4 separate regions of the Homo sapiens genome follow, and all the other regions are linked to region 2. Evidence: fine-mapped expression QTL. A gene starts in region 2. Each other region holds a variant in brackets. All regions are shown on one strand. Distances are from middle to middle.

Region 1 (5,000 bases), 72 kb after region 2:
TAAAGACAATCAGATACTATCAATTATTCTACATTTCTTAAAAAGCAGAAAAATGACATAGCCATATATATATATATATATATATATAAAATTTTCAAATAGTAGGTGTAATCAGCTCATTAAATTGGGCATTATACTGTCACGTACACACATCAATGCATCAAAAATCCAGAAGATACTACGTTACCAAGACTATCTTAAAATTCGACTTTGTTATGGTAGTGGGTGAGCCAATGAAAGAAGAGTTGGTTCTTCTTTTTCCTCCTCCTCCTTCTCCTCCTCCATCTTTTTTTATTCAAAGCCAGCAGAAAGAGATAATTAAAGCAAAGCTAAAGGAATTGAATGCAAAGTTTGCATCATACGTGTGAACTAATCTTTTCTCCATGGCATATCTAGAAGATCAAGTAAGACACCCATTCAGATGGTTCATTAACTAGTGAAACTTCGGTGGAAATAGGGCAGGAGGAAGTAGTTTCTTGCTCACAAAGTCATTAGTATTCAAAAATACAGCATAGCAGTTCTCACCTAAAATAGAAGGATAAAAAATACTAACAGTCAATGCTTGTTATGCCAAGTACATCTTTCACAGGGGTTTTGTTTAGAATAAAAGAGATAGTGAAAGTTTTCAGATGCTAGTAAGTAGTGAATAAATGCAGAATGTACTTACACATTTATGTACCAAATGCTGGAAGGCTGTGCACCACATAGAGCAAAGAAATGTACTAAACCATCAATTTACTAGGTCATTTTAAATGTAGGCAGCAAAATGGCTATGTGCGTGAAAAGCCACTACTATATTTTGAGAGAGCCTTTCTAAGAATCCTGAAATATTAATAACATGGTCTTAATGTAGTTGGAGACAAAAGAAGGTGTTAAGGGTAGCAAGGCTGCCGAGAATAGCACAATGACAATTTTGTATTTTCTGCCTGTGTTTTATAAAAGCAAAAGGAAAAGAGTGTCTGTTTAAAGAACAGCAGCCTTCAATTTTCCAAACTGGTATAAAATTGGTATTTCCCAAATGAATTCACATATATTTATTCCTGGTGACATATTAATACCAGCTTCGAGGAAAAATAGGAAAAAATGTAAACTTGCAAATGCACTTTTTTCTTAAATTCACATAATATATAAAACAGGTTTTTGCACTGTAAGAAATTTAATGAAATTGAAGGCAACATTTTCCATTTTGATTTTTGCAAAAGATGAGTTTAATTTTTTAGCTGGAAGTAGTCTTATCAGAATAGCTTTTCAAATATGCCATTTGGACTTTGTGATGATCAGTCACTGGACAGTTTCTTGTCCTTGTCGATCTTCCACTCCCACTGTGAGTTTTTCGTTTTTGATGCTTGTTGAAATTGAGGGGTGCATGAGAATCAGTCAGTAATATGCAGTTTTCTGCAAACATTCAGATGTGAAAAAAATGAAAGCATTTTGTGCCTTCTTTGCAGTCCTGAGTTGCCACAAGTTGCTTTTGTCGACTGCGACTGACTGAGTGACAGGCGGGACCCAGTGGGTTTGTGTTCCTGTTCAGAGGCTCATTGTGTTTGATGTGAGAAAGCTGGGCTTGACCCCCAGTCCTTCTTCCTGCTAAAGTCAGGGTTTCTGATTTTAATCAAAACCCTAGGGCCATCTTAAGCATGACCAAAAAAGCACCTTGCAAGTTGAACCTTATCTAATTATGCAATGTGTATAAACTTGAGACACATAAATCTCAGTCATTGGAGCAACTTGTTTTTCTAAGATGCTCCGGTCCAGTGAAAGACGAAAGCAAATAAGGGAGAGATTGATCTCCCAGCACTTTTATTGTCAGTGCTCCACACGTCATAAAGTTTTGGCTTGTTAAAGGAAATTCCATAAACAACTTCAGTTAGTAAGAGTGAAGTAACTGTGTGCCTTCCTGAGCCCCTGCTAAATTCCCTTTCCGCTTGCCATTACAAGAGTATGATTAAGAAAATGCCAACAGGATATGCGAGTGGGTGGAACAGACTTCAGCTGGAAGCCATACAGATGCTTGATGGATGAGTAGTGACAGTGAGATGATGGCCCTATCTCCAGAGAGAATCAAGCAGTTTCATGGATCTCTTTCTAGTACTCATTTCAGTAAGATCTGCTGCGTTGCTGCATGGTTGTTCCGTTTTGGCTGCCAGGCTGATGGAAAATGGCTGATAGGTCCTTCTCCCCACTGCTGTTTCTGATAGTATAGACAAGTCCTAAGGACATGATGAATGAAAAGAAACGAGAGTGAATCATGCTGGAAAGATTGTGGGTTACTGGCACATTTTCTTTGAACCTCTGGTGTTATGAAATAACTTTACTCTTAATGGCCTTGTCTCTGTGGGTTTAATGCTGATGGTGTTGGTCAATTTTTATCTGGGGTTGAGACAGATTTGAGAGGCGATCATGAAAGGCCATGGGGGAAGGAAAAAGAGTGGGGAGCAAGTAGTCATTATTTTTTATTATGAGTTTTCCCAGAATTAGTGAGTTTTTCCACACTACTAAAAGTGGTCCTTAGTGTCAGTATGATGACAGTGTCAGTGTGATGTTTATGAAGATGAAGTCATGGAAAGGATGTCAGGTGTATAAAAAACTATATGGCCCGTGTTCTCTACACCAGGCTCTCGGGAGGTGTGTGCATTGCAGGGGAAGGGTGCTGGAAAAATGGAAAGAGGGAAAAACAGGAGGGTTTTATGAACTTGAAAATAGACACAAAATATTCGCTGATCAAAAAACAAATCTTAGCATACTATATTCCAAAATCTCCAGTTGATAGTTTTTGTTATTTCACCCTGAAACTGTGACCCGTGCCTTACAAGCTCGTCTTTTTTACTTGCTTGCCTTTGTTGATCTTTCGATTTGGTTCTTTCTGTAGTTGTAATTGGGAAATAATCACCA[C/T]CCGGTTTTTTTGTCAGCACTTGGATACACTTCCCACTGGTTGGCTAAAGGCTACACTCTGAAATTCCATAGCATGTGACTAAGCATACAGGCTTTGAGGGCAGAACACTTGGGGTCAAAGCTGGGTGCTGACACTTAGCAGATGTATGGTCTTGTGCCCTCAATTAACTGCTCAAAGCTGAAATTCCTCACTTCTAAGGTAGAGATAATGCCTGTCGAAAAGGGGTGCTGTAAGAATTAAGCAGCATAATGTGTATAAAGGGTATCTGGCACATAGAAAGGCGTTCGGTAAACTTTGCTGTGCTTTTCCTTGATTCTGCCAGGTTTAAGAAAATTTCTTCCTTTGGACTTCTTGACACCTGACCAGGAATGTTAATGGCCCTTAAAGAGCGACTATACTCAATGAATGCTTTTGGTTGCATGACCTGCATTTCAAGCCACATGATCGCTAATGATTAGCAAGAACGTCTCCCTTCTTCTGAAACAAGGAGGTGGCTTTGCATTTTTGCTTTGGTCTATTTGCAGTGGTTTCTATTTGTTTGTTTTTTTCTTCTTCCCTGCAGCTTGCAAAATTGGATATTACAAGGCTCTCTCCACGGATGCCACCTGTGCCAAGTGCCCACCCCACAGCTACTCTGTCTGGGAAGGAGCCACCTCGTGCACCTGTGACCGAGGCTTTTTCAGAGCTGACAACGATGCTGCCTCTATGCCCTGCACCCGTAAGTTGTATGCTTGTCTCTCATTCCTGTGATGCCAACAGCTTTCATTACCACCTAGCAAGGCACTGCCAGGTCTTCTCCTGGGATAATCATTCAGGGGGCACTTGAGATCAAACATTCATCCTTTCTCAATCATAGCAGGGGAAATGCTTGTAAAAAGAAAGGGTCTTTCCCACTGCTTCTGGTTGCCTTCAGTGTGCACAGCTGCCTACAGACTACTTGGTGGAGAAGAGATTGAGTGTTCAGAGGTTGTCTGACAGTGTAATTAGAGCTGAGATTGGAATTTATTAGTGGCTTTGCCATTGCACTGAGGACTCAGGGAAGCTTGACAACTGGCAGGAGAAACAGGTAGACGGCAGGGTTTGGGAATGTGGTTTCAGTCTGTAAAGGACAGCTCAGTGTGCACTGAGATCATTGCTTAGGTTGTCATTACACCTCTTCCTTCTCTACTCATAGTTTTGTGTTCATAAGACTTAGGCCCCAATCCTAATAAATGCTTGTTTAATGATTGCATTTAATAAATGCTGGGTTAATGAATGGATGAGGCTGGGAAGCTTGGTATGAAGAGCAGGAGTGAAGAAATATTTTCTCACACTTTATATGGACAGTGTTCCTAGGTGTTACCATTCCTTTCATGTACACTTGGGCCTTCACAGACCCTACAATGGCTGTGACCTTGATCGGAATGGGGAGCACTGGGCCCATGAATTTCCATTAGGTGAATCTGTGCTTGGAGGGCTAGCCTCATGGCTCAGGTCAGACACCTTCCACAGATTTTGAGTTTGTTTCCCAGCCTGTTGTGTAGCTGGGTGGCTGTTGAGTCTCTTCAGTCTGTTTCCTCACCTGGAGAATGGAGTTAATAACAGTGCCTCCTAATGGTTGTTGGTATTAAACAGCCTCATGTTGTTTATGTGCTATGTACATCGCATAGGATGATGCCATTTCATATATTTTAGCTTTGGCCGGGAGCGGTGGCTCACGCCTGTAATCCCAGCACTTTGGGAGGCTGAGGTGGACGGATCACCTGAGGTCAGGAGTTCGAGACTAGCCTGGTCAACATGGTGAAACCCCGTCTCTACTAAAAATACAAAAATTAGCTGGCATGGTGGGTGGTGCCTATAATCCCAGCTGCTTGGGAGGCTGAGGCTGGAGAATCACTTGAACCCAGGAGGCAGAGGTTGCAGAGAGGCGAGATCGCACCATTACATTCCAGCCTGGGTGACAATAGCAAAACTCTGTCTCAAAAAAAAAAAAAAAAAATATATATATATATATATATATATATATATATATATATATATTAGTTTTAGTTATCATTATGACTATTATTATTTTGTTTCCTAACTACTATAAATGGTATTTTGGCCAATCTGGAGCTAACAACCCTGC
Region 2 (7,876 bases):
ACGGAGTCTCACTCTGTCGCTAGGTTGGAGGGCGGTGGCTCGATCTTGGCTCACTGCAATCTCCGCCTCCCGAGTTCAAGCGATTCTCCTGCCTCAGCCTCCCAAGTAGCTGGGATTACAGGCGCCCGCCACCTTGCCCAGCTAATTTTTGTATTTTTAGTAGAGACGGGGTCTCACCATGTTGGCCAGGATGGTCTTGATCTCCTGACCTCTTCCTCATGTGGGATTTGGTACATTGTAGACACTGAAGAAATGTTTGTTAGAACCGAGTAAAATTCACGGACGGCATCAAATGAAGTTTTAGAAAAGCCTTGCTCCCTTGAGAACTGCAACCTTCCTGTCTGCCCCTCCTCACCTCAGTGATGCAAAAGAGATTATTATTCTAAGTGAAGTAACTCAGGAATGGAACACCAAACATCCTAAGTTCTCACTGATATGTGGGAACTAAGCTATGAGGATGCAAAGGCATAAGAATAATACAGTGGACTTTGGGGACTTGGGGGGAAGATGGGAGGGGGCAAAGGATAAAAGACAACAAATACGGTGCAATGTATACTGCTCGGGTGATGGGGGCACCACGATCTCACAAATCTCCACTGAAGAACTTACTCATGTAGCTAAATACCACCTATACCCCAACAACTTATTAAAAAAATGAAACAAACAAACAAAAAAAGGCCTCTTGCTTTGTCTTGCTCTCTCATCCTCTTGATGCATGAAGACCTGAGCTCTGCAGCCATTTTTTTTCCCACTCAGGTGTAAAGGGCTCATAAGTGTCCTGCTTCTTATTTGCATAACAAACAGCATCAAAGCCTTGACATCAAAGGATGAACTCTGCAGTTAGGTTTCCTGGGGGCTTCCGGAAGCCCACCAATTGTTGTGTCAAATTTGTATATTTAAGATGCAGTAGCTTGTGGTAGAAGCGTTTTCTAACAACGGTGGGAATTTCATTAGGTAGAGCTTTGGTTATTCATTACCACTTGGTTGTGGGACTCTGGATTCCTCACACCTTCTTTCACGTATTTTTTACACTATTCTATTTGAAGACAAGCATAGCCTCTAGGTCCAAATCCAGTGGAATTACCTAGGAATATAAAAGTTGGATGTCAGCTGTCATAAATCAACAATAAAAGAAGAGAAGAATTTAGAATTTATTTCCCTTCCCTACTCTAGGAGTTAATAAAATAAAGCATCTTATTTTCTCATGGAGCACGAAAGGTAAATCACAGTGCTTGGTTTCCTTCTGGAAGGAACAATTCAAGCTGAACAAATGATTTCTCATTTCAAAATGTGAATGCTTATTAATTAAATATTATTTTACAGAAACAATAGCCAGGCATGGTGGCTCATGACTATAATCCCAGCATTTTAGGAGGATGAGGCAGGAGGATTGCTTGAGCCCAGGATTTTGAGACCAGCCTGGGCAACATGGTGAAACCCCATCTTTACTAAAAATACAAAAAATTAGCCAGGTGTGGTGGCACACATCTGTAGTTCTAGGTATCCAGGAGGCTGAGGTGAGAGTATCACGTGAGCCTGGGGAGGGTGAGGCTGTGGTGAGCCATGATCACACCACTGCAATCCAGCCTGGGTGACCTGAGTGAGACCCTGTCTCATAAAATAAAAATAAAAATAAAAATGAGTAATAACAGCTGGCTAACACACGCCAGGTACTATACCAGAAGCTCTATAACATTCATTCAGTATTTAGAAGAACCATATAATGTTAACTATCTACAATTTGTAGATGAGAAAACCATATCTCAGAGAGGTCAAGGAACTTAAAGACACACAGCTAGAAAAAGCCCAGCTAAAGTATCAAATTGGGGTTGTCTGAATTGAAAGTTCTGGTTCTCTAAAAGAGAACTCAGGGAGTCATTGGAGCACTATGGGCAGGTTCCATTTTTTTCACAAAAAATCCACCAGGATGCCTAGAAAAAGCAGAGTGGATTCATCTTCTTATTCTCTCTGTCTCTCCAGTCTTTCATACACCCTCCTTATCATTATTTGTCTACGGGTCAAAGGCTCCTTTCTCTTTACTTTGGTGAAATTGGCCCTCCACATACAGGTGGAAACCCCGGGATGCTTGGTGCTATTTACAAACGTCTTTTACGGATTAAAAACACCTTTGGAATTCAATCTTAATTCAATTCAGCATTTACAAGGTACTTCGTAGCTCAAACGTTTGTGGTAGGCACTGTATAAAAAAAAGTATATCATTGTTTTCAGATTATTCAATTACTATTTTCATTAAGTGTGTAAGCAGATATGTTTTGACATGTTTCTTAGTGTATTCAAAATAACCCCAAATTTTTACTGTAGTAAGACTTGTCTTACTCAAGAGTAAAGCAATTTTATTTTAAAATTAGGTGATTTTAGGTACTTTTTTAAAGGTATGATATTCCATTGTATCCTTATGACTCCGTTGATGTGTTGTAAACAGTCTCCAACATTTGAAAACTCCAGGTTGTCTTCCCATAATGTGGGTGGTTTTCTGCATTGATGGTGGCCTTTGTCCACCATCATTTTTAAAATTTTGCCTTACTCTTCAAGGAATCATATCTGCTAGGTTAGAACACCTTTGTTCTAGGTAGTCACAATGGACAGAGGAATTTTCAGCAGCTCATTTCTGTTCTGCAACCCAGAAATGATTTAAAGAGGAAGTTATAGTTCAGTTTTTCCAAGTTAGCATTTCCTGCTTCTTGGTTCTCCTGATTATCGGGCTGCCTTGGGTCCTGAACTAAAACATAGGAAGAAAAAAGGGAAAGTCAGTGAATGTACTCTAGCAAATGATGCCTTGCTTTCAGGCAGCTGTGTCTGGAAAGACTTTGTTTAATATTCAATGTGCATATCCTGGGGAAAAAAATGGTACATGTTTTAGAAATTTTACTGTTTATAACAATGCAGGCAGTCAGTTTCCCGTTTCAAACACAGATAGATACATGCAACACTCAAGATCCTGCAGAGAGGCAGCCAGCATCTATTGTTTAAAAAGGTTTCAAAAAGAATTCGGATTGCTCTTTTCTCTTTTGAATCTGTGTGCCAAATGACAGGGACCAATATTCGTCTTCTTTTTCTGTAAAACTCAGAAAGACACATGAAAGAACCCAGAAATGCATTTCTTAAAGGGATTTAGTGCAGTTATTTTAAATAATTTATGCACGCACACACACATACATATATCCCCCGAGTACATATTTTTTCCCTTTTTACTTGTGTGCAATCAGTAGCTACAATGACTGAAATCCACTTCTTTGGACTGTGACATTTAAGCAAATCTTGTATCTAGAAACCGAAATGCCCAGAGTCTCGCACAAGCTGTTCGTCTGGGCCACCAACTCACACAGCCGCCGCCCAGCGCCTCGGCACGCGTGCTCATCTTGTGTAAAAGTAAAAGTTGCTCATGTCATTAGCTCGGCTCTGAGTTTGCATGAGAAACCAGCGCAGCTCTCGAGCCACGGGAGAAAACACGATCTGCTGCGGAGCCCAGTGACCTGAAACTGTAGCAGTGACTCGAGACCTGTCCTCTCCTCGACGTCGCCCTATAACCCTCCCGCTTTATTTAGGATCCGCTTTTCCGAGAGCAGCCACTCAGGCAACCCCCGGAAGGTTTGTTAGGAGTTTCTCCTTGAAACGCTTTCCGATTCCATCTTTTGAAATCCAGCAGGCGAGAGTCACGACAGACTCCAGGACCTCTTGAGCGCTGTCCGCAGCCCCACGGTAGGAGTAGCCCTAGTGCACGAGACTTGGCGGTGGCTGAAAAGCTCGCCCAAACGCACGCACCACCTCTCTGCGGGGTTGCGGATTGCGGGTTGCGGTCTTTGTCCGCTCGCCCTTCCTCCGGGGCCGCACACTCCCGCATCTGGCCGGCAGGTGGCGCGGTTGGCTCACGATGAGCTGCGGCCGGGGCTGGAGAGGCTCCTCCACCTCCCAGCGGCCGCCCGGCCGCCGGGACCCAGGCTCCCCAGGAAAACTCGGCCCTGCTCTGGAGGGAGTCAGAGGAGGGGCGGCCTGGGAAGGGGAAGGGAGGCCTCATTGCTAGGAATCAGTGCCCCTGCCAGCGCCTGGGGAAATGCACCGAGTGGCGTTGGGGACCGGTCCCTGGGACACCGGCTGCGCTGCCTTCGCCGGACCGCTCTTAGGTGGCCGCGTCCACGGCTCGGGCATCGGGAAAAGACCACAGCCCGATGGTGCCAGTGCCCCCGGGGCCGGAGCAGCCGGGCGGGGCTCTGCGGGTCCTCCTGCTCGCCGTCTTCTCCCGGGGCAGGGAGGGCTGCCCCGGCTAGGTCGGAGCGGAGAGTCGCAGCAGCCGCTCCGGGCAGCTTCCCAGTCCCGGTCTGCCTTGTCTGTGCGGCTGCAAGTCCCCGCACCCACACTTAAGCCTTTCACTTCTACCCCACCGCTCCCAGACGGGCTAGGCCCGGTTCCAGGGACTGCCCCCAACCCTGCCCCCGGGAAATCCACAACTGGTTCCCTGCCCAAGGCCATCTCGGGGCGTCCTGGGCCCTGGGCGAGGTCCACGGCGTGTGCAGGGGGACGGGGCCAGCGGGGACTTCCTTACTGCTAGAAAGTCATTCGTTCAGTCTCTGGAGACAGTGACGGAGCCCTGCTGCGGACTGGACGTTGGGGACCAAGTAGGTCCCCGCTCTCCAGGCATCTGGGGAGCCAGGGAAGAAGCGAGTGATAGAGCCACAAAACTCCCCGCAAAGAGTATTTCAGAGGGGGAAGCGCCATAAAGACAAAACAGGGCAAGGTGGCAGAGGGTGGCGGTGGCAGGCGCGAGTCTGCAGCTCAGCCCGGGCGCGCTGGACGCAGACACGTCGACTCTCCTAAAGAAGCAACCGCAGGTCAGCTTAGACTTCTTTTATTTCAATAAAAGAGCGTTTTCCTCCATCTTAAACCGCCCGTGGTGGGAGAAAAGGTTTCCAACCTCTTCTCTGGCTCCCCTCGGTCAATTCCGAGCTTTTCCAAAGTCCCTCCGCCGTCCAGGGGCTCGACCTTCGAGGTAACGTGGGGGATCCCGCTGGCTCCCTCCGGCAGGCGGGGGCGGGGACCGGCCGTGCTCGCCCCCTAGAGCCCCGGGAGACCGCGCGCCCCGTGGAGCCCGGAGGGGGCGGAACCCTGGGGCGGGCCCTGCTCGGTGAAGGCGGGGCTCGGCCGCCCTGTCTGCGCCGCCATTGGCCGCGGGCCCCGGACTGGCGGGCTCACGTCACCGGCCGGGCCCGCCCCCTTGGCAATGTCTTCAGCCCGCTGCTCTCCTAACTTAAGCATTTATTCCACTGGGATAGAAGCGGCAGGAGCAGCGTTGGCACCGGCGAACCATGGCTGGGATTTTCTATTTCGCCCTATTTTCGTGTCTCTTCGGGATTTGCGACGCTGTCACAGGTTCCAGGGTATACCCCGCGAATGAAGGTAAGAGCGGGACGGCCTTTCTGTGGTCGGGGACAGCGAGGGGCCATCGCGGGTGAGGGGTCCTCAGGAGCGCAGGGCCAGGTGGTGCGGGGGGAGCCCAGTGTGAATGGTGCGTCCCGATTCGGGAGAAGGGGGCTGAGGCGAGGGGATCGGCGAAGGGGCAGCGGGGAACCGCCGGACAGCCTGCCCCGAGGCGGTGACCCGTGCACGCGGCGGGTCTGTCCAAGTTTGTAACCAAAGGCCAAAGTTTATCAGCATCCGCCAGAGAGGCCCGCTCGAGGCGCCCTGAGGGGATGCACGGGAGACAACGCCGGGATTTAAAAAAAAAATTACAAGAACCACGTCCTCTCCTGAGCCAGCCCGGGGCGAGGGGAAAACGCAGCCTGGAGCACAGTGAAGGCTTGGTGCTCCCGGATTCTAGCGAAAGCCTTTCGAGCTCTGGTTTCTGCAAAGTTTCCCGAGCCCTGCGCTTCTCGGGACCGGGCTGCGGGGCCTGCTCCGCAGCGCAGCGGTCGTGGCGCCGCTCGTCAGGCGCCAGTGACCTGATTTCTAGCACCCGGAGTCAGACACCTTTCTCCTCGCCAAGCCCAGCGCCCCGAGGGTGCGATTGCGGGCCTGAGGGGCCCGAGCTCTTCGCCCCGCAGACTTGGGGAACCCGCCGGCAAGTTGAACGCAGTCGAGTTTTAGCTTTTCGCCCCAGAATTGCACACAGTTTAGAGCTAACGTGCGGGGTCGACGGGACCCGTCTGGGTGCTCAGTTTTCTGTGCATCCGTTCGGACGTGCTGGGAGGATTGTATGTGCCTGTGTGTCTGTGTCGGGAGGTGGGGCGGGGCGGGGGGGCGGTGATCATTTAGTTTCTGAGAAACCCAGGGAGAGGCGAACTGTGTGTGTGTGTGTGTGTATGTGTGGTGTGTGTGTGCATGTCTGCGTGTGTGTGCATGTCTGCATGTGTGGTGTGTGTGCATGTCTGCGTGTGTGTGCATGTCTGCGTGTGTGTGCCTGTGTGTGTGCGCGCGCGTGCAACTGCGTGTATGTAGGTGCGCGAATGCCTGCGTGGAAGCGGACGCGGAGGATTGTATGTCTGTGCGCAGATGTCCTGAGTGTGTGCGCGTGTGTTCGAGTGTATGCTCGTGCTCTGTTCCAGCGTATGCTGGTGCTCTGGCCTGCGTGCATCTAGTCTCACATCCGTCTCTCATTCTTCTCCTTTCCGGCATCCATCTATCTATCCGTCCGTCCATCCGTCTATCTATCCATCCATGCATCCATCCATCTCTCCGTGCATCCGTCCGTCCGTCCATGCATCCATCCATAATGCATCCATCCATATATCTGTCCGTCCGTCCGTCCATCCATCCCTCCATCCATCCACCCATTCATCTATCCATCCATCCACCCATCCATCCATCCATTCATCTTTCCATCTCTCCAGACATCCGTCCATCCATCCCTGTGTAATCTATCGTTTTCTCTGTTCCGAAGGAGGGAGCCAAAAACCAACTTAGCCTTGGCTGGGCAGCCGGTACCCGGAGCCCTCCAGACGGAGGCTCTGAGAGATTTATACACCTGCCCACAGACATCGCTTGGGAGGAAAGGGGCCCTCTCTCGCCCTCTGGATCTCCCATCTCCTTCCGACGTGGCTTCTGGTGGTTCTGGTGCCATCTCGGCCGTCGCCGCCCCTCGGTCCCTAGGGTTATTCATTCCCCTGAGAGGAATCGTGGATCCCGCGTTCTCCTGGCCACTTCACACACTTGTTAGGACGTCCCCTGAGACCTCTCTCGCCCCAGATGTAGAGACTGTTTTCTTTCTTTTTTTTAAACCCCCTCTTTTTTTGGGGGGGGGGGAGAAAAACTTGGGAGCCCAAGACAAAAAGGCTCTGAGAGCCCTAGGCTAATGTTGAAGGGGAGGGAGGGAGGTCTGTTCCCCTCCCCTCCCCCACCTCCCCCTTAAAAATTAATTCACTTTGTTGCTTTCTATTCCCATCACGTTTCCTTTTCTCTCTTTTACCCTCCCTTTCTACTCCCTCCTTTTTTTGTAAATTGGGTCTTATTGTTTCCTTTGTGTCCCTAATCCACCTTACATAAATCCAAATGGATGTAGCGGGCTTTTCTCTAGGGACAGAGAGAAGAGAATGGTTGCGGTGGGGGTTGGCGGTGGGGAGAGGAGAGGAGGGAAGGGGGCGGGAACTCCAGGCGGGAGCGACCCAGGGAAGGCTCTACATTTTAAAATCATTAACAGACCCCAGGAATTCAGACTCCCCGGGAAAAGTAGGGGAAAGAGACTGATTTTTAACTCCATTGACTTTGAGGTGAAATGAGAGGGAAAGTGGGCAGAATCCAGGGGTCTGGGGGTAAGCTTGAGTGTTGGGGTGCGCATGAGCACGGATGGCGGCTTCCCATTCCCACCCCTCCCCCAGCCTGAAGAGCCAGCCTGGCTGATCAAATTAATAACCCAGTGGTTCCTTTG
Region 3 (5,000 bases), 79 kb after region 2:
TTAGTAGAGATAGGGTTTCACCATGTTGGCCAGGCTGGTCTTGAATTCCGGACCTCAGGTGATCCACCCACCTCGGCCTCCCAAAGTGCTGGGATTACAGGCATGAGCCACCACACCCGGCCAACAGAACTAAACTTGTAAGTATTTTTTTAAACTTAAACATTAACTGCATAAGCCTCTGAAGACTTCCTCTGAGATAGGGATAATCAGGGAAGTGACTATACTTTGCTGATAATAGATATAGTCGTAAGTCAGGCAGCAGAACTGGATTCTAATTCTTAGCCTATGGCTCTTCCTTTCGACATCTCCCTTCCTAGTGAATATAATGGACCTGTATTGTCTAGTACTGTAGACACTTGACACGTGGCTATTTAACCTTAAAGTCATTAAATTGAAATTTAGGTTCTTATTTAAACTTGGCACATTTTGAGTGCTCAATAGCCATATATGGCTAGTGGAGACTATACCGGACGGCAGACCCAGAGAACGTTTCTATCACCACAGAAAGTTCTATTGGACAATACTGTAGTAGACGTTCCAACAGAGAAGACAGTAGGAGTTTCTCAAAGAACCTCTTGTTCAGATGATCCACAGAGTAACTCTCCCCACTCGCACGCTGCCCCCAGCTTTATCGGATTCTCTTGACAAGATGTGGGGATGGGAAGCAGCATAAACATCAGGGGTCCTTTCAAACTGATTCCAGCCTCTAATCAGTTCTTCCCAGTTGGTTAAGCCAGGTGACAAACCCAATTCCCTTGTGCTGACAGCCATGATAATCAGGCACCTTCTTTGTTCATTATGCTGTCTTTAACCCCAGCATTCTTATGCAGCCTCGCATTTAGTGATCGCTCACTGTGACGGCACACTAATGAAGAAATAAAACACACTATCTGAGCCTCATTCTTCTAGCCAAAGAGAGACTGTGCTCCACTGGCTTGTAAAATCAGGTTTTTGTTCACTTGGAGAACAATTAGACCAGGTGAATAAAAGTAGCATTGGCTAATTTAGAAGGAAACTGCCTAGGAAGTTTGCACCATTGACGCTGCTGGAGAGCTTAAGAGAATTTAATCGTAAACAAACTTTACCTTTGGGAATACTTTTGCTGGAGCCTCTGGTTAGGTTAACATAAATGGCTGCCTGTGAGATGTGCTGAGATGTTTCTATGGAAGCACCATCGGAACATTTTCTGGAAAATAGCCCATAACTATTTAGAACAGGGAGTTTAGAACAGAGCTTTTTAAACATCCACATGCACAAAAATCACATGGAAATCACCTGCGGATTAGGAGGAGCGAGGTTAGGCCTGAGAGTCTGTTTCTGACAAGTTCCCAGGTGAGGCTGAAGCTACTGATCTGTAAAACCGTCTTTAGGCAGCAAGGATTTAGATTCCCAGCCCCACGGCTGTCAGGAGACAGGAGATTCTGTTTTGATGCCTGTAACTTTCAGACCTGTTCTTCAGCTCAGTGGTGACTCTAGAAAGGTATTTCATGGATTCTGATCATTCTCCCTTCATGGAAATGGAATACTTCATCTGTCTCCTGTATGAAGAAAATCCAGCCTGGGTAGAATCATACAACCAAATGCACTCACTGTGGAATTATTTTTCTTTTTAATTTTGCTGTTGTTTGTTTGTTTCTTCCAGAATCCTCACCAAGTTATTGCCAGAGAGTAGAAATGTAAATGTTCACCTTAGACACCTGTATCAGTCAAGAGAGGCAAGAAGTTTTTTTTTTTTTTTTTTTTTTTGGCAACATTGCCAGGACAAGCACCATTATTTCTGCACATTCAGGGCTGCCATTAAAGCTGATGTCAGGATTTTGATTTTATGAATCTTTTCTTAACAGGGATTTTGATGTGATTTTTATTAATGAAATTAAAGTCCTTTAACTCTACGAATGACTAGCTCTTTCCCTTCTCCAGATCTGTTTCTCCTTGTTTCCCTGCCCCTTCTGGAATGCAGTCTGGTTATCAGCAGGACTGGGCGTGGTCAACCTCACACCCCTGCAGGAAGACTTCTGATGGTCTTAGTCATGTACTTGCTTGTTCAATGATTGTAGTGAGCAAGATCTTCTTTTCCCCCACTGGGAAGCTAAATCAATGTTATATTTAAAGTAACTTTCTTTTTTTGTTTTCCCTTTTTTGAGATAGAGTCTCACTGTGTTGCCCAGGCTGGAGTACAGTGGCGCTATCTCAGCTCACTGTAACTGCCACCTCCCGAGTTAAAACAATTCTCCTGCCTCAGCCTCCCAAGTAGCTGGGATTTACAGACATGCACCACCATGCCCAGCTAATATTTTTGTATTTTTAGTAGAGCCTGGGTTTCGCTATGTTGACCAGGCTGGTCTCGAACTCCTGACCTCAAGCGATCCGCCCGCCTAGGCCTCCCAGAGTGCTGGGATTACAGGCGTGAGTCACTGCACCCGGC[A/G]TTAAGGTAACTTTCTTTTCCAACCCCTTATTGTATTTCAAAATGTGCTAGAAAAGTACCTTGTAAAGGTAGTAAATTGGCTTTGCATATCTAGAAAAATGTAGCTCATCTGTCATTTTGCCACCTTGACTTCTGAGCACTGTTACCAGAGTAGTTTTTCGTATTTTTCAATTGGAAATCTGTCCCTGTGCTTTTGGGTGCTCTTTATTTAACTTGTTTGATGAAACTTCTTAGAGCCTGGTGATTGGGAACACTCTGTAAATGAGAGATTATTATTTTAGATTGCCAACTTGAAGGGCCTTTACGAATCTGTCTCCAAGTAAACAGCCTCGAATGTGCCAAACAAACAAAGAGTGATTGATTGATACTTAGACGTGGCCGAAAATATTCCAAAATTGCAGCTTTCAAGACATTTTATACTAGGAGAGCTCAGAGCTAATGAGGGCAGATTTCCTAAGATCTATGACCAGAGGTCCTGATTTGAAAAAACTTTCTCCAGGTTTACGTTATCAAGAAATTGAAACAGCCAAGTTCCAAACAACAAACATCACTTACTTTGTCTCTACATTTGCCTTTTCTAATTGAATTTAGTGCGCTGCTGTATTTCCTCCCAGAAAGTGTATTGTTTTAAAATTACCATTTCAGTTCTATTACTCAAAGCCCTCGCTGCTAATGCTTTCTGACAGTTATCAACATAATGAGCCATAATGAAATGATGAGCAATCTTCGGTGGAAACCCAATGTCGATTCGACCGGTGCTGTGTGACTGTGTTGTGAAAATTTGAATGCAAATTAAAATAACATCGTCCTTACTTGTTTCCAAGGTCAGGAGAAGGGAGGGACTCTTTTCCTTTTTTATTTTTTTATTTTTTATTTTTTTAAGGGCTTTAATTTTGGGAATCTCACATCCATTTTCAAACAAGCTCTTGAAGGTGCCCCTGTTATTCTGTTCAATTCTCTACCCCAAAGATTTACATGCTTAGCAGTCTGGCTAAGGGATTTGGGGAGGGATGTCTAGAGCGAGGCTTTGATGTATAAACCATAGGATAAAATGCAGCCTTCAGTTTCAAGTAAACTATATATTTTTTTATCTACCCGAAAGCATATTTCTTTTTGCTTTAGAGCTGCAAGTAACTAATCATATAATGATGGGGGAGGCATACATTCTGTGAAATAGGTCAGTGAGGGTGCAGTTAGCTCTAGTGAAAGACTAGTTAGAAAAGTGAGAACAAAGGCCAAAGATTCCCAAAGTGTCGTAAATGAAAGTGTTTCAGAAGATTCATTGGTTGATCTCTAGCCATTTTATCATTCATGCAATCAATCATTTTCGTGAACATATTTTTATGAAAAATCTCAAATCCAAGTTTTCCAGGGGAATTTCTCATTCCATGTCATTTATCAAATTTGCAATGTAATAGTATAGTTTCATACTGCATTCCATTTGTCATAGGACAAAAACTCAGATTGAGACACCAACTCCTCCACTGCCAGATTACATAGTTGGTTTTTAGTTCAGAACATATGGTCCTGCTGCCTGTTAGTTGGTAAGCCAGCTAATGTGTCTGTCCCATGGACTGTACAAACTGATCAAAGCAACCAAAGACATTTGGACGATTCAGATGCAGCCGTCAACGTATGCTGCTGCTTCAGTTAGAGCTTAGTAGTTCAACATCTGATGTTAGCTAGTGAGTATACCACATTTTTGTTTCTTCCTTTCGGATTGCCTTTCAGCATTTTAGCTACTAAAAGGAAAAAGTACCTCTAGACAACCAAGTGGATGGTTTTTGTTTGAAGAAAATTAAAGATAAAGGGAGAAAGATCACCAGGTGAGCTTCAACGAAGGCACTAGATAGACCCCAGACTGATCATTTGCCATTTGGTTGTTTGCAAAATTTTAAGAGCCTCATGATATTTCATAAAGATCAGGTATCATCTCACTGAATTCTTTTTAAAAAAATGCTGTTTTAGCTTCCTCTTTTTTTTCCCCACATACTCCCCATTTTATAGTCATAAACAGCCCATTATGGATTCCACTGGAAAATGCAAAGATTCGAGGGACACTAATATATGCCCAAGTGGAAGGCTTGAATAATCTGCCAATGCCATTTAGCCAGGTTATTACAATTTTTCTACCACCCTGAATAATTAAGAGTGGCTTGTCATTGACCGAGTCCTGTCATTTCTGGATGCCATTTTTGACACTATGCATGGAAGTCATACAGTGGTTATTCACAGCATGCTTCTATGAAACAAGGTTAATTACACATTTTTCTGAGATCCCCTGGGGTGAGAACGGGGTATCTTCTTTTTTTCTTTTTTTAAGACAGAGTCTCACTCTGTCTCCCAGTGGTGCAATCTCAGCTCACTGCAACTTCCACCTCCCAGCTCAAGCAGTTCTCCCACCTCAGCCTCCCAGGGTGCTAGGATTACAGAAACGAGCCACCACACTCAGCCCAGGGTATCTTCTTTGCTATCAACATTTAGATTTATGAGAGATTCTGCTATAGAGATATAATTGCCCCTCGCCCTATTCCTATGATCTTCCACCTAGAAAAAGAACCTTTAATAGAAACTC
Region 4 (7,918 bases), 350 kb after region 2:
AACTCAAAAGCTCTAGGCTAGAGAGAGAAGCGACCTGGATTCACAAATGCTTTTGTTAACTTCCTTGATTGGGTGACTCTCCTGATGCAACTAAACTTCTTAATAATACATTTCCGTAATGTCAAATTATTATATTCTGTTGTTTTGAAAAGTAAAGTTCCATTGGATGTAGGAGTGAATTGAAAATAAAACAAAAGAAAAACTGGGACATGTCATACACTTCGTGTTTTACAGAGAAGGTAGAAGTTGAATGTCGTAGCCCTGCTAGTGGGAAGGAAGAATGCTGGCCTCTTAGCTGCAGCCATGGGCTTCAAAAGCCAGACTGAAATTCACCCTTATTTTAATCAGGTTGACTGTCAACGCATGCAGATTTATCTATGCCTGGCAACAGAAAGTAATGCATTCCAAATACTTGCTAGTGAATAGTCTTAAGCTTGTAGCCACTCAGTAGTTACCTACATACTAAATCAATATTCAAAGATTTCTGGATTTAGATATTAAAATTATAACTTAACCAGATCAGTAGAAAGCACATTTGGTTGGTCTCTTGCAAAATTGCTGTTCTTAAATTCTATTTTAGTGGCATGCTATCAAGTTATATGAAAAGTCATGATCAAAACAGGCCTATTAAGTTCATTGTTACATTTTTGTTAAGGGTATTCTTGACTATGTGGCATTCTTTTATCTTTATGATTTATTAGAGTAAAATCCTTGGACAATCTTCATATCAAGAATGTGTGTAAGCCACCTGGAAAATGATTCTTTTTTATCTTAGGGATGCAATGAATTATGTACCCTAGATTTTCCCTTCAGTTGGCAGATAAAAAATCAAGGGCTAAGTCTGTGATGCTTCCATAGCACACACATCAGTTGTATGGTTTCGCCTATGTACTTGTCTCATTTTGATCTCATGCTTATTTTATTTTATTTTTATAAATTCATATTTCTTTATTAGAATATCTGTAACTTTTTTTTATTTTTCATAATTTCAACTTTTATTTTAGATTCCAGGGGTACATATGCAGCTTTGTTACGTGGGTATACTGCATGATGCTGAGGTTTGGGATATGAATGATCCTGTCACCCAGATAGTGAGCATAGTACCCAAGAGTTAGTTTTTCAACCCTTGCTCCTTTCTCTTCCTCCCCTCTAATAGTCCTCAGTGTCTGTTGTTGCTATCTTTATGCCCATGGGTACTCAATGTTTAGCTTCCCATTTATAAGTGAGAATATGAGAAATTTGGTTTTCTGTTTCTGCATTAACTCACTCAGTAATGGCTTCCAGCTGCATACATGTTGCTACAAAGGACATGATTTTGTTCTTTTTTATGTCTGTGTAGTATTCCATGTGTACATACACCATATTTTATTTATCAAATCTGCCTTTGATGGGCACCTAGGTTGATTTCATGTCTTTGCTATTGTGAGTAGTGTTGTGATGAACATACAAGTGCGTGCGTCTTTTTGGCAGAACAATTTATTTTCTTTTGGATATATATCCAGTAATGGGATTGCTGTGTTGAAAGGTAGTTCTGAGTTCTTTGAGAAATCTCCAAACTGCTTCCCACAGTAGCTGACCTAATTAATATTCTCACCAATAGTCTATAAGCATGTAACTATTTCTTTTAAGTCATAATTTTTGAATATGTACTTAAAAGCTGACAACATTTCACCATGCTTAGGTTTGGTAAATACACAAGAGAAGTGCTGCAACTTTCCAGTCTAGTGCCCAAGGCAGACATCATTAATCAATAATGGTTCTCATTCCCTTGAAGGCTGGTCACCACTTTAGATTCCTTTTCAATCCATGTTTCATGTATTCACTACCAATTGATTAAAAGTGGCTTTCAGCATGAAACCTATTTGCCCTCTCTGCCTTAGAGGTTTTTTCCATGTAATTTAAAAAATATATTTCTTCTCGGCTATAACTTAGGTAAAATTGGCTTCTAGTATCCTTAATGTGAAATATAACCTTTACCTCTATTTAAAATCAGTAAAATAAAATGGTACCATATAGCAATAGTATGCATAATTAAAAATAACTTAAGTAAATAATAATCTTTCATAATAAGTTGATTTTTAAGAGTGAAAAAATAAGTTTCTCATTTTCTTTGGATCACTGACATTGAAGAAGTAGAGTAGTAGGGCTATACCTTTACTCTGAACTACTCTGGCTCTTGAAGATCCTGGAAACCTTTGTTTAGGTGTGACTTATCTCAGCCATGTTTTATCTCAGCCATGTTTTATGTAAGGAAAATGATTTCCATATGTCTCCACTACTTCACAGCCAAAACATTTGTGCACAGGTTGGGTGAATGCTTCCCATAGGGTGCATTCCCTTCATTTCAAGTCATGAATAGAGAGGCTTTGGATTGCAGAAAAGAATTTGACAGTTTTCATATTGTGCACACATGCACACATGCATGCGTGCACACACACATGAACACACACACACTTCTCTTTTTCTTTCAGGGATTTAAAATGATGTTGGGTTTATTAACCTGTTATATACCTTTAATTAAAATGCCACTATCAGGATTAATGAGTAGATTTAAATCAGTATTGTATCACAGACAACATAGAGTTTAAAGGGAAAATGGCTCTAACATTATATGAAATTTATTTTAGTGTGTTTCTTAGAAAACCTCAGTGGTCCAAATATGTTGCTTTGCTTTCCTGTATTTTCAACTCCCCACAGTAATGCCCCACACCCAAGCCAAGCAATTTTTAAAATTAAGAACATATTTTATTAATAGCTCAAATACAGGAAGAATACAGCAGCCCTTCCTGGTGATGTAACTGAACCTGATGATTTGAATTAAGAATATGCTAACATCTGGTAGTACCAAAAACATGCCCTATTAGAAATAGAACATACTCATCTCTGAATTAATATTCATGCTTTCTATATATTTTTTAGGAATAAGAAGTCTATTCCTCCAACAGAAATCTACATAATTTAAAAAAGTATTTGGCTTTAAATCTTTGTTCAAGTGTACTTTACCAGAAGTGACAGTCGTACCGAATAGGGTCTGGAGTCTTGAGTGTCAGACTGGAGGTGAAAATAGAAAATCTCTTTTCCTGGCTTTATAGAAAGAAGCATGTTCCTAACAGATCAGAAGCAAAGTGATGTGTATTTTTTATTATCATAGGATCTGGGATAAAGTACAATAGATAAATACTTAGATGAAAAGTTAAATGGAGGCAGGAACCTTAAACAGGCCCTTGAATAATGTGTTGTTATTAAGGCGTTGTCAGACTTTGAGAGGAATTAAATTATATTGTGGCAATTTGAAATGTTTACCTTTACATGCACATACCAAAAAAAGAAAAAGGAAAATGAAAAAGAAAACAATATACCACATTTCTTTTATTTCAGTTTTCAAGAAAGCCTTCAGCAGTTTTTTACATGATAAATACAAAAAGACAACCTAATAACAGCTTGCTTTGTTCTAAAATTAGGAAAGGAAAAAGGTGGAAATGAGCATGTTGCATAGTTCTTAGAAAAAGGACAATTTGTTTTTAGAACTGAACGTTACAGAAAATTTTTTGTCCGGAGCATGGAAAATTACTAAAAAGGTTATAGAAGTTATTCCTAAAGTGGCTTCCAGCACCATTGTGCCAATGTTTAATTTTATCTCTCCCCCAACCCCCTCCAGCAAGTGT[T/C]CTTAAAGGAAAAGGGATTTTCTATTTTGAGTCCCTCAAGAACAAACATATCGTAACAGTTTTCTTTCCAGAGAATGTTCCCTGTGCTTCTGTTCTTTACCTTTTCATCCCAGAAAACTGCCATGCCTACCTAAGGCAGGAATCAGTGCCAGTCTCCTCATCCTGTCTCCAGCTAAGAGTGCACCTCCCTGTTAAATGATTAAATAGGTCAATATTCACTTGTATAGCAGAACTTACTTTTGGTAACTTTTAAAGTTTTATATGATATCAAAATTTATTTCAGGAAAAAGAGCAAGAATAGGTTAAGGAGCTCTTGTATATTCTTTACCAGTTGTTTATATTTTTCTTTATTATGTCTCTATTGCTCCTTCTCTCTCTCTTTCTCTAGACACACACATACACACACACACACACAGAGTATATTATTTTTGGAAACATTTGGAAGTCAGTTAAAGACATTGTACTTCCAGTTCCAAACTAACTCTACAGGGTTTTGCTGTTTTCCACATTTGTGACTTTCTTCTCTAGTGGTAAAAACCCTGGCTTAAATTATCTTTAATATAAATATTCATTTGCTCAGGTCTAGAATACATGGAAAGCAGTTTTAGAATTGTGAATAACTGCAAAACCTAAACTTACCAGTGAGAGTTTAATATTTGTTTTCAGTTCTATCAAGGGATAATTCACATACAGTGGAATACAAAAATCTTAAGTATGTAATTTGATGAGTTTTGACAAATTCACGCATTCATTTATCCACATGCCCACCAAAATGTAGAACTTTTCATAAACTTGCTCTTTGCCAATTAATCCTCATCCCAAAGCAAATTAACCCAAAGTATATAGAATAAATGAAAGCAAATTAACCCAAAGTATGTAGAATATTGAAATAATAAAGGTAATACTAGAGAACAATAAAACAGAAAAATGGAGAAATAGAGAAAAACTAATATTTGAACATTTGAACAAATCAAATTTGTTCAAATCAAATTAAACAAAACTAATATTTGAATATTTGAACAAATCAATAAAATTGATAAACCCTTAGCTAGACTGATAATTACTAGAAATAGATGAGGATGTGTGAATATGAATCTTTTAGATAGTAAAAAATAACAAGGAAATATGAATAATTTCATGTGATTTGTCAATTTAGATGAAATGGACACATTCCTAGAAAAATACAAATTAAGAACACTGACACGAAAAGAAATAGAAAATCATACTAGCCCTATATCTGTTCAGAAAGTTGAATTTATAATTACCCCCTATAAATAAATCCCTATTATTTAATGGTGAACTGAAACCTTTAAGAAAGAAAAACCACAAATTCTACATAAACTTATTTTTCAGGAAATAGATGAGAAAAATGTTCTTATTTCATCTTATTAGGCCAACAAAACTCTAATACCAAAGCCAGACAGACATTACAATTAAAGAAAATCTGTAGCCTAATGTCCCTTAGAATACTAATTAAATCCATCAATATATTAAAAAAATAGTCTGGACACAGTGGCTCACACCAATAATCTCAGCAGTTTAGGAGGCCAAGAAAGGAGGATCACTTAAGACCAGTAAGACAAGGCTGCAGTGAGCAATGATTGTGCCACTGCACTCCAGCATGGGCAACAGCAAGAAAAGATGCTGTCTCTTGAAAAAATTTTTAAAAAAGAATAGATAATAATATCAAGTGAAACATTAAAAAATTACTGCAATTTATTAAGATTTTTAAAAATCTTATCTCAACAGATGCAGAAAAAACATTTAATAATATTTGCCGATTTATGACTTAAAGCCCCAACAAACTAGGAATTCGTGATAAAGGGCATCTATGGAAAACCTACAGATAGCATTGTATTTGATGTTAAAATATTGGACCCTTTCTCAATAAGGTTATGAACAAGGCAAGATTTTTCACTTTCCAAACCTTTATTATAAAGCTGGCAAAAGTAATTTATGGTAATAGAAATCAGAAAAGGTTTTGCTGGAGAAATGGTTAGGACTGTCTAAGAAGAGGCACTAGAAAACTTTGGTTGGGGTATGTATTGCTAAGATGTATTCTTTATAATCTGTGTATCTTGATGTATGTAATTTATATTTCAATGATGATCTAAATTCAGTCTCCAGATATCTATTAAACAATTCAGCTTTTGAGTTTTTACTTTTTATTTTGATATTTTACATGTTCCATATTTCTTATTGTGACAGACAAAATTCTATAACCCCTAATGACCTACATGTTGTATAATCTGCTCCCTTGAGTATGGGTAGAAACATAACTTGCCTGTAACTGAATATTGCAAAGATGATGGGATATGACTCCATGATTGTTACATTATAGAGTAAAGATGAAGGAATTTTGCAGATGTAATTAAGTCCCCTAATCAATTAACTTTAAGTTAATCAAAAGAAGATTTTCCTGGGTGGGCATGACCTAATCAGGTGAGCTCTTTAAAACAGGATCAAGAGGGCAAAGACTCTCTCCAAGCTGTCCTTGAAGAGGAAATCTGCCTTGGGTACAATGAAATAAATTCTGCCACCAATAATGTGAGTTTGAAAAGAGAATCCTGAGCTCCAGATAAGATGCAGGCCAGGTGCGGTGACTCACACCTGTAGTCTCAGCACTTTGGGAGGCCGAGGCAGGCAGATCACTTGAGGTCAGGAGTTCAAGACCAGCCTGGCCACAATGGTGAAATCCCTTATCTCTACCAAAAATACAAAAATTAGCCCGGCACAGTGGTATGTGCCTGTAATCCCAGCTACTCGGGAGGCTGAGGCAAGGGAATTTCTTGAACCCGGGAGGTGGAGGTTGCGATGAGCCGAGATAGCGGCACTGCACTCCACCCTGGGTGATGATGCGAGACTCTATCTAAAAAAAAAAAAAAAAAAAAAAAAAAAAATCTAAACCTAGGAGACACCTTGAATGCACCTTGTGAAGTCTTGAGCAAAGGGTCCAGCTGAGCTGTACCTGGACTCCTGACTCATGGGGAACATGTGATAACAAATATATGTTGTTTTAACATTCTAAATTTGTGGTCATTTTGTGCTCAGCAGTATGAAATAAATGCACTAAATATTGCTTTAAACATTTTTATAAATGTGATAGCTTCTTGGATATTTCTCTTTCCCATTATTGTTTTCCCCCATAGAAGATGGATTTTCTCCTTAATAAATTTTGTATCTATCTCTCATGTAGTTGATTTCCTTCATTTCTTGTTAGGTTGAGTTATAATTTTATCTTGTCTTTGATTCATCTGGATCACTGTTAGTGGATGTAGATTTTATTTTCAATACCATGCCTTTGCTTAAGTTGTTACAGAAGAAGAGAAGCAGAGTGCAGGACAAGATTCTGTTCTGCACATAGGGACTTCTATTTCCGCTAGTAAATTACCTGGGCCACATTCTTAAGGCCTGCTCAGTGGGGTTCTTATATCTGGACCCCATTTCAGGGATTAGTGCTCAGAGTATGCTGAATTGGCTACCGCCCTTCTATCTTCAGGCTGGGCTATGCTGTCTAGAATCAACACCCGTTTTAGGTACCCTCTCCAAATATACTGTCCACTATTTTTTTTTAAAGATAGTATTACCTTAATGTCTAAGTAGAGAGAAAATACTACTGTTTCATGGTACATAGTGTAGGCAGAGGAAGGGTAAGTTCTTTAATTTCTTCCTTTGATAATTGTTGAATGTGTTTGGCCTGCTCTTGGTATGTATTTCTCTCAATTTGAGTTATCTCAGGAATTTCTGGAAGAGCTCTCTCCTCTTGAACATGTTTCAGTTTGTGGTTCCTCTTGATGAAGACTTCTGCTTCATCAGTACAAGTCTACCAGCTTCTATTCTCAGGAATTCCTTATACTCTCTGTCACAATAAATGACATTCTGTCTTGTTTTCAAGCATTAATATGGACATATATATCTTCTTTTTCCATTTTGTAAGATTTGATGAAGCAGGGAAGTGCTTTTATTGTTTCTTGTTATATTCCCATGTTCGAGGTGGTCAGATAATTTTACAGATGAGAAAATGAGATTGAAAGATGGCCACAGGATTTACCCAAGGTCACCCATCTGGCAAACTGTATGGACTGGATCTGAGCTTAAATCATCTAACTCTTAATGCAGTGTTTTCTTGCCTCTCATTAGGACCTAAATTATAAATGTTAACGTGATGGAACTTCTCAATATAGTCAAGAGCATTTATTGTCTACTTACATATTAAAGAAAATTACTTTGGAATTCTGGGAAGCCACATATTG

Which allele goes with the higher level. Alleles are on the strand shown, and positions count from the first base shown. SD is a standard deviation of normalised expression in the study named. Not every link is listed here.
With allele T in place of C in region 1, the expression in fibroblasts of the gene that starts at base 5,266 in region 2 is higher (small effect, 0.24 SD a copy in GTEx).

The links. PIP is the estimated chance that this variant, and not a neighbour inherited with it, causes the effect. A credible set is the group of variants that fine-mapping cannot tell apart.
Region 1: its variant is the best candidate, but not a certain one, in a credible set for the expression of EPHA4 in fibroblasts (GTEx, PIP 0.83).
Region 3: its variant is the best candidate, but not a certain one, in a credible set for the expression of EPHA4 in whole blood (TOPMed, PIP 0.77).
Region 4: its variant is the best candidate, but not a certain one, in a credible set for the expression of EPHA4 in tibial artery (GTEx, PIP 0.60).

Annotation. Positions count from the first base shown.
Region 1 is chr2:221,499,628-221,504,627 of GRCh38, reverse strand. EPHA4 (EPH receptor A4) reads left to right here. Exons shown (of 18, transcript NM_004438.5): 4 at 3,456-3,611. Among named protein-coding and RNA genes, the nearest start is that of EPHA4, 70 kb to the left of the region's middle. The variant C/T (reference allele first, on the strand shown) is at 2,893.
Region 2 is chr2:221,569,694-221,577,569 of GRCh38, reverse strand. It overlaps EPHA4 (EPH receptor A4), which reads left to right and starts at 5,266. Exons shown (of 18, transcript NM_004438.5): 1 at 5,266-5,412. The coding sequence starts at 5,322. RefSeq lists an enhancer at 585-1,097 and silencers at 3,801-3,960, 4,011-4,290, 4,891-5,310.
Region 3 is chr2:221,491,748-221,496,747 of GRCh38, reverse strand. All of the region lies in intron 4 of EPHA4 (EPH receptor A4), which reads left to right. Among named protein-coding and RNA genes, the nearest start is that of EPHA4, 78 kb to the left of the region's middle. The variant A/G (reference allele first, on the strand shown) is at 2,426.
Region 4 is chr2:221,224,138-221,232,055 of GRCh38, reverse strand. No RefSeq gene overlaps it. Among named protein-coding and RNA genes, the nearest start is that of EPHA4, 340 kb to the left of the region's middle. The variant T/C (reference allele first, on the strand shown) is at 3,666.